Regions from separate parts of the Homo sapiens genome. Here regions 1 and 3 are each linked to region 2. The links come from fine-mapping of genetic effects on plasma protein levels. A gene starts in region 2. Each other region holds a variant in brackets. All regions are shown on one strand. Distances are between the middles of the regions.

The links. PIP is the posterior inclusion probability: the model's chance that the variant is causal. Protein levels are from antibody-based Olink assays in UK Biobank. Linkage for the fine-mapping came from a reference panel and not from the study's own genotypes, which makes the PIPs less certain.
Region 1: its variant is fine-mapped to the plasma level of the BPIFB2 protein (UK Biobank, PIP above 0.99).
Region 3: its variant is fine-mapped to the plasma level of the BPIFB2 protein (UK Biobank, PIP above 0.99).

What each region holds. Positions count from the first base shown.
Region 1 is chr20:32,993,175-32,996,023 of GRCh38, forward strand. It overlaps SUN5 (Sad1 and UNC84 domain containing 5), which reads right to left. Exons shown (of 13, transcript NM_080675.4): 8 at 2,445-2,553. Among named protein-coding and RNA genes, the nearest start is that of SUN5, 9.8 kb to the right of the region's middle. The variant T/C (reference allele first, on the strand shown) is at 1,464.
Region 2 is chr20:33,006,461-33,009,309 of GRCh38, forward strand. BPIFB2 (BPI fold containing family B member 2) reads left to right here and starts at 1,244. Exons shown (of 16, transcript NM_025227.3): 1 at 1,244-1,300; 2 at 2,081-2,223. The coding sequence starts at 2,115. RefSeq lists enhancers at 629-1,624, 1,625-2,619.
Region 3 is chr20:32,740,861-32,743,360 of GRCh38, forward strand. It overlaps COMMD7 (COMM domain containing 7), which reads right to left. Exons shown (of 9, transcript NM_053041.3): 1 at 2,448-2,500. Among named protein-coding and RNA genes, the nearest start is that of COMMD7, 1.4 kb to the right of the region's middle. RefSeq lists enhancers at 272-773, 1,443-2,270 and silencers at 1,224-1,398, 2,383-2,452. The variant C/T (reference allele first, on the strand shown) is at 1,449.

The DNA of each region.
Region 1 (2,849 bases), 13 kb before region 2:
CCAATTTAGTCACATGAATAAATAACATTTCTTAGGCCCAAAGGCCAGGAGTTTCCAGATTGACGGATTCCAAAGGGTGGCCAGCCCATAGGCACATCTGTGGAAGCAACAAGGACCAGATGAACTAAAATTCTGCAGAGCAGAAAACCATTCTGAGATGTGCTGGCATTTTTTGTCCGTTTGTTTTAAATCTCTGGGGGTATTTGACGATTCTAGGCATAGGCTAAGGATCTGGGCTTAGGCCAGACAATGGGCTGCTGCTACTGGTGAAAGAGAAGGAAGCAAAGTTCTTAATGGTGACAAAGAGCTAAAGTAACAAAACTGGGGACTTGAGGAGCCTCAAATATGGCCACTTTTCTTCACAAGGTATTAACTGAATTTCAAGACTATAGGAGGCTATAGGCCACTTCAAACATTTCTGAAAAGCAGAATAAAACTTCATATCTTCACAGTGCTTAGGAAACGAAGTCCCTTTGAGGGAGGGCACCGCAAAACACAACAAGCAAGAGATCAAGGCCTTAGAACAGTGATTCTCTCTGGTATATGTCAGAACCACCTGGAAGGCTTGCTGGAACACAGATGATTGGTTTGCATCTTCAGAGCCTCTGATTCAGAAGGTCTGAGTGAGGCCTATTAATTCGAATTGTTAACATTTTCCCAGGTGATACTGATGATGCAGGCACGTGGGCCGTGGGCCGTACTTTGAGATCCATTACCCTAGAAGGGGTGGTGATGAGTCAATACTGTGCTTCAGCTGCACTTCACCTGGGGGCACTAAATCAATCCTGGGCACAATTAGAACCCAGGAATCCAAGTTTGCTCCTGGCGGAGAAGGCTGCCACCAGGCCCAGAGATTTTTGCGTTCATGCAGGGGTGAGAGACACATTTGGAGACTTGTGAGGCCTCAAACATACAGTAAGTCTGCCACTAAGACAGTTGTCAAATTTTTGAAGCTGCATGGGAAGGAGTCTAAAGAGTTAAGCTTAAAACCTCTGGATAAATTTTTTTAAAATTGTGATCCAGGTCTGTCTGAACTAGCTTAGTGCATGTCTAGATAGAAGTGACCAGTCTATTTCATCCTCCTTATAAAGAAAAGGGGAACTTTCTCTAGTGGAATTATAATTATTTGGAACAGCTACAGTTCTTTTGTATACAATGTTGAGAAACCACTAAAAGTTACTAGACTTGAAGAGGCAAGACCATATCATTGATACCCAAGATAAAAAGCAGAAAACAGAGGGAGGCCACAGATGATCCAGACATTGGAGTTAGCAGACAAGGATTTTTAAAATAACTGTTGCTAATGTGTTAATTAAAATAAAGGAAAAGATGGACAACATAGGTGAAATGTTGGGGAATTTCACCACAGAATTAAAGTCTGTGAAAAAAATCAAATGTATATCCTAGAACTAAACAATGCAGTATCTGAAATTAAGAACTAAGGCTGGATGCAGTGGCTCACG[T/C]CTGTAATCTTAGCACTTTAGGAGGCTGAGGCAGGTGGATCACTTGAGGTCAGGAGTTCAAGACCAGCCAAGTCGACATGGTGAAACCCTGTCTCCACTAAAAATATAAAAATTAGCTGAGCGTGGTAATGTGCACCTGCAATCCCAGCTACTCAGGTGTAGGATGCACTTGAACCCAGGAGGCAGAGGTTGCAGTGAGCTGCCTGGGCGACAGAGGGAGACTCCATTAAAAAAACAAAAAGAACTAAATGCATGGATTTAATAATAAATTGGAGAGACAGAATGATGCAAGATTATTAGTAAACCTGAAGAAAGGTTAATAGGAAAATATCAAAACATAAGCACATAACAGAAAAAGAATGAAAAAACAAACCAGGTAATAGCGTAGGAATCACATAAAGCACTCTAAAGGCTTTCAAAGCATAGGCCTAGCATAGGTGTAATTAGAATCCAAGGAAAGGAGACAGATAATGGAAAGAAGAAATATTTTAAGAGATAAAAGGTAAAAGTTTCCCAAAACTATTGAAAAATATCAACCCACAGATTTAATAAGCTCGGCAAACCACAAACCAGGTTATATGAGGAACATTAGAGACAAAAAGATTTTTCTACAAGCTCCCAGGGATAAAAAATAGATCATACTCAAAGGATCAATAATAAGAGTGCCATTAGACTTCTCATTAGCAACAGTATAAACTATAATAGAGTGGTGGGCTTCCTTCAACATTCTCAGGAGAAACTATTTCATATTTAGAATTCTGTACCCAGCCAAACTATCAACCAAGTACAAGGATAGAAAAAGATGCTTTTAAACATACAAGCACTAAAAATATACTTCTTTCACTGTATTCCTGAAAGTCACTGGGGGATGTGCTCCCTCAAAATGAGAGATAAAACCAAGAAAGAACACTTGAGGTATAGGAAACAGGACATCAAACAAAGAGAAATTAGATGTTTGGGGCAGAATGGCCAGCGTCTCACCTCATCGGACATGGCTTCCATCTCCTGGAGCTTGGCAATGAGCTGGTTCATGCTACCTCGGAGGTCCTGGATTTCCCCACTGTGATGTCGCACCTTCTCCTGGTACAACCTTATCAGGAAGGAGTGATAACAAGAACAGGTTGATTTGTGATGCGTTGTTGTTACCCTCAGATTTTCCCTTTGCTAGTTGGCTCTCAAAGAATGAGTTTCAGATTTTCCTAATCTCTTGGGCCCATCCCTGGACCCATTCATCAGGTTATTATCTCTAAAACATTACTCATTCTCTTCTTTCTGCTTGGAATATCTTTATACCCAGCTCATTCCTTCCAAATATTCCTGAGTATTTTGTCTGCAATTAAGGATGCTGCCATCAGGTGGTGTCTTGGTTAAAATTTCTTCTCAGCT
Region 2 (2,849 bases):
TGGAGGCCTAGCACAGGGTGGGCCTGGGAGCTGGGCCTGATATTTGGGCTGGTGTGGGGTCAGTGGGAGTCAAAGAGTGCCCTGGAGTTGGGGAAAGGCCCCAAGTCATCCTGTGCCAATGAAGAAAAATGGAAAGGCCATCGCCTGCTGTGCACACATATATGCACACACACAAGAACATATATACATGTACCTCCCCATCCCAGGAAACAGTCCACTTGCATACACACATGCACCTAACACCACACACTCACAGACCCACAAACACTCAGTAGGCCAAGCCCACACATGCATACATGTACACAAAACTCCCCACCTCTGTGGTCCTGTTGGATTGTGTGAATAGACACACAACACCATAAACCAAGATGCCAACGTGCCCATTTCATGTCCACACTCACACATAAGAGCACACATTTTCCCCGTACATGTGACTATGCACACACACTCACATGCATGTATCAACACAACCCTCATCCACACATGTGCATATGCAAATTCCTTCATGCGCACACACAGTTCCTTGGGTCCCATCCAGCCAAGGCGGAGGCTGACGTTTGTAATGTGGAAAGAGACCGTGGACTAATCCATTGTGAGTGGAATGTGCATTTGGAGAGAGGCTGGGATGTTAAGCTGTGGGGACAGGTCACGCACACTTTCTCTTCTGTTCCCTTCTGAGTTAGGGCTCAGTTTGTGACTGGGATCAGGGCTCAGCATGTGATCAGGGTCAGAGCTCAGTAACTGGGGTCAGGACTCAGTGTGTGAATATGTGACAGGGTCAGGGCTCAGTCAATGACTGAGGATGGTGCTCAGGTAGCCTTCTGCCCCTCCTAAAAGGGTCATGTTTCCGAGAGAGCTTGGAGGTACCAGGCTTGAGGGGTCATTGCAGCCATCCCCTTGCCTATGGGAGGGGGGATGGGGTCCTCATGGGCCCCATCCTCCCAGGCCTTGGCTGGGCATGATAAGATACCCTCCTAGAAGCAGCTTTCCTTCCAGAGATCTCCTGGCCCTCACTAAGGCCATAGCTGCCTAGCCCCAGGGGCTTGTAGTGGTTGGGAGCTGGGCCTGGCTACTGGCTACGTGGCAGCCCCAGCGCACATGTGGGATGAGACACTTTGGCAAAGGCCATGTTTGCAGGGAAAACACTTGCAACCACAAGCAAACTCGCCGCTCCCTGGGTCCCTTCCCAGTGGACTCTGCACATTGGGAGCCTTATAAAGTAGCCTCTGCATCTGCCTGCCTCGGGCAGAGGAGGGCTACCCTGGGGCTGAGAGTTCACCTGTCTCAGGAACCACCTGAGGTAGGCATGGGGCTGGGCTGGTACACCACTTCCAAGGAGGCTTGGCTTCTCTATCTGTTCAGTGGGGATGCTACCTCCAGCCACCCTCTGCAGAAGGGTCCTTCCACCCCTGGCCTTGCTGTAGGACCTGGGCAAGTGCCGCCATCCTGGGTCTCAGCAGACCCACCTGAGCCGCAGTCCCTCACTCCTGCCTGGCTCCCTCTCCCTGAGTCAGACACAGATCTGCCTATTTGGCCAGACTGAGTCAGGAGAGGATGGGGGCCATGTGAGAGGCCTACTCTTAGGCCATTTACCACCTGGCCAGGAGGGGATGAGGACAGGAGCCACCCTGGGTCCTCCCCTGGCTGAATTTGGTGGACAGCTGGACACCAAGCTGGCTGTCACACGGGGCTGGACTCCGGCATCAGGTGATACAGTCCTGGGCATCTTCTTGGGACAGGAAACTACCCTCAGTCTCCCCGTTTGGGAGTCTCACCATCCTTCTATGCCATGGCTTGGGTCCTGCACCTGGTCCCAGTCCACTGTGTGGCCCTAGGCAAGACCATTTCTTCTCTGGGCATTGCGGGTCATTTCCAGAAGGGACTCCCCCATGATTCCTGATGAAGCAAGCAAGGCAAGGTGATGGTTCCCAATGCAGAGATGCAAAAACTGATGTCTGTGGGCCTGGGGCAGGGCTGGGATCACCAGTCAGGGCTTGTTCCCTCCAGGCTGGAGTGGGGTTCGGGTGGCTCAGGGGTGGGCTGTTTTGGCTGAGCTCCCTGATGCTCATTTCTACCCCAGCCCACAGATCCTGTGGGCAGCGGCCAGGGCAGCCATGGCTTGGGCAAGTAGGCTGGGCCTGCTGCTGGCACTGCTGCTGCCCGTGGTCGGTGCCTCCACGCCAGGCACCGTGGTCCGACTCAACAAGGCAGCATTGAGCTACGGTAAGCGGTGTGTTACCCAGTGAGTGTCTGTGAGCCTGTACATGCGTGTGCAATCCTAAGTGTGTGTGCGTAGCTGTGAACTCAAAAGGCCCATGAGGACCCAGATTTTAATTGGAAGTTGTGTCCCTGGCACCCAGACAGTGCCTGACACATGGCGCTGCTCAACAAATGCTTATTACATAAATGCGTGAGGGGGGAGTACGTCATGTGGCCAGTGTGCAAGTGTGCACATGTGACTTGCTCACATGCTTTGGTGATGTGGGCATAGGTCGGTTTGAGGGGCTATTTTTACCTGTGTGTGTCTACTTATGAGTTTGAAATTTCATAGAGCTGTGCCCACGTGTGTACTTAAGTGTCGGGGAGGGTGCAAGCCCATGATGCTGCCTGGATGTGTGTGCACAGGTACGGCTGTTCACCCTGGGTGTACACGTTTGCGTATGTGGTGTGTGCACGCACGTGTGTTCTTGGGAGAGGTCTGTCTAGCACCGTGATGCAAGGAGTGTTCTAAAGTTATATCCCTTCTGAGCTCAGCGTGAGAGAACCATCCGCTCTCTGGGTCCCACTTGTGCGAGGGCTCTGTCTTACGGCTGTGCTGCTAGATCCTTCCAAGTCTTGCCCCAATCCCC
Region 3 (2,500 bases), 270 kb before region 2:
TGGCAGGGTGCATGGCTTACGCCTGTAATCCCAGCACTTTGGGAGGTTGAGGCAGGCAGATCACTTGAGGTCAGGAGTTCGTGACCAGCCTGGCCAACATGGTGAAACGCTGTCTCTACTAAAAATACAAAAATTAGCCAGGCATGGTGGTGCACGCCTGTAGTCCCAGCTACTTGGGAGCCTGAGGCAAAAGAATCACTTGAGCCCAGGAGGTGAAGTTTGCAGTGAGCCAAGATCACGCCACTGCACTCCAGCCTGGGTGACAGAGGAAGACTCCGTCTAAAACAAACAAACAAACAAAAAAAAACTGACAGTAGGCTAAGGTCAACTTATCAAAAACAGAAAAAAAAAAATTTTTTTTTAGGGATGGGGGTCTCACTATGCTGCCCAGGCTGGAGTGCAATGGCTATTCACAGGTGGAATCACCATGCACTACAGCCTTGAAATCCTGGGCTCAAGTGATCCTCCTGTCTCAGCCTCCCAAGTAGCTGGGACTACTGTGGTAGCTGTGCCACCGTACCCAACTAGAAAGTTGTTTTTTTTTTTTTGAGATGAAGTCTCACTCTATTGCCCAGGCTGGAATGCAGTGGTGCAATCGCAGCTTACTGCAACCTCCACCTCTCAGGTTCAGGCGATTCTCCTGCCTTAGCCTCCAGAGTAGCCGGGACTACAAGTGCCCGCCACTACACCCAGCTAATTTTTGTATTTTTAGTAGAGACAGGGTTTCATCATGTTGGCCAGGATGGTCTCGATCTCCTGACCTTGTGATCCGCCCACCTTGGCCTCCCAAAGTCCTAGGGTAGGTGTGAGCCACCGTGCCCGGCCTATTTTTTATCTTTTATACTGTATTTGTACTGTACCTTTTCTATTTAGATTTGTCTAAACACACAAATATTTACCATTATAGTCCAGTTGCCTATGGTATTCAGTACAGTCACATGCTGTATAGGTTTGTAGCCTAGGAGCAATGCGCTATACCATATATCCTAGGGTGCAGTAGGTTTGTGTAAATAAACTCTAGGATGCTTGCATAAGATAAACTCAGGGCTGGGCACAGTGGCTCACGCCTGTAATCCCAACACTCTGGGAGGCTGAGGTGGGCAGATCACCTGAGGTCAGGTGTTCAAGACCAGCCTGGCCAACATGGTCAAACCCCATCTCTACTAAAAATACAAAAATTAGCTGGGCATGGTGGCGTGTGCCTGTAGTCCCAGTTACTCGGGAGACTGAGACAGAGAACTGGTTGAACCTGGGAGGCGGAGGTTGCAGTGACCCGAGATCGCGCCACTGCACTCCAGCCTGGGTGACAGAATGAGACTACGTCTCAAAAAAAAAAAATTAATTTCCATTTCTATTTAATTTTTAAATGTGGCTACTACAAAATGCAAAGTTAGAAATGTGGCTTGCAAATTTTTCTATTGCATAGCTCAAGCTTAGAACCTTCCTGT[C/T]GTTACAAGTTCTAAGTTTGGTTTTTATCTCGCAAGCAGCACTACTGTGTGGGAAGTTGTGGGGGGTATGGAGATGAAAGAAGAGGGGCGCTACCTCCTGGGAAGTGACAACCTAGCGGGGGAAATAGATGTATCTTCCCAGTGGGGGTGAGAAGTGTCATTCTCACCTATTTCAGCAGCCTTGGTGGTATGAAAAGGCATCCCAACCAGCACAGAAGCAGGATGCCTCCAAGACTGCCTTGGTTGGCACCTGCAGCCTGAAGGGGGAGAAAAAGGCTTTGCTAGCTCCCCTACCATCGAGGATGAAGACCCCCACTGTACACAGTGTATAAGGTTTCTTTCCATGTGAATCCCAGTGACTCTCCTTAACTGGGTGGAGGTGGAAGGTGTCATCAGCCTTGTCCCAGATCGAGCCCCTCAGGCCCACAGAGCCCCAGTGGGGCCTGGCTATTACTGACACTCATGTCACACTGAGATGTAAGACGGCAGCCCAGGCCAAGCTTCCCCGGGCCCCCTCAGATTCTCGGGCCCTCCCACTCCCCTCAGGCTTCCTCGGCCTCCCTGCCAAACATCTATCTCCCTTTGGACCCCACTGCTCCCCAAAACTCCCCACGCCCTTAGTCTGTTCCTTCAGTTCCCCAAACTCCTTCAGCCTCATCTAGACTCCCCTCCGTCCCTCTTCTAGGACCCCAAAAGCTCTCCTCGGCCCCAGGACCCCGCAGAGGTCCCGTAGTCCCATCTCTGAGACCCCACAAAGCCTTTCGGACCCCTCAGGTGGCCCTTAGGCCTCCGGAGATCCCTTGGCTCCCCACACTCTCCTCAGACCCCAGCTCACCTTAGCCTCGCCCCGAACCCACCTCACACACCCCAAACGCCCACAAGACGCCGCTCTGTCTAGTCTCTCCCAACTCCCGCGCACCCCCGGACGTCCCCCCCACCCCAGGCCCGGATCCTGGAATCACCTGGGCCCCGCGCCCCACGCCCCGCCGCCGGGCCCACCTGCGCGCCCAGCTGGTTCAGCTGCTGCATGTCGCCGCCCACGGCCTCCGGCA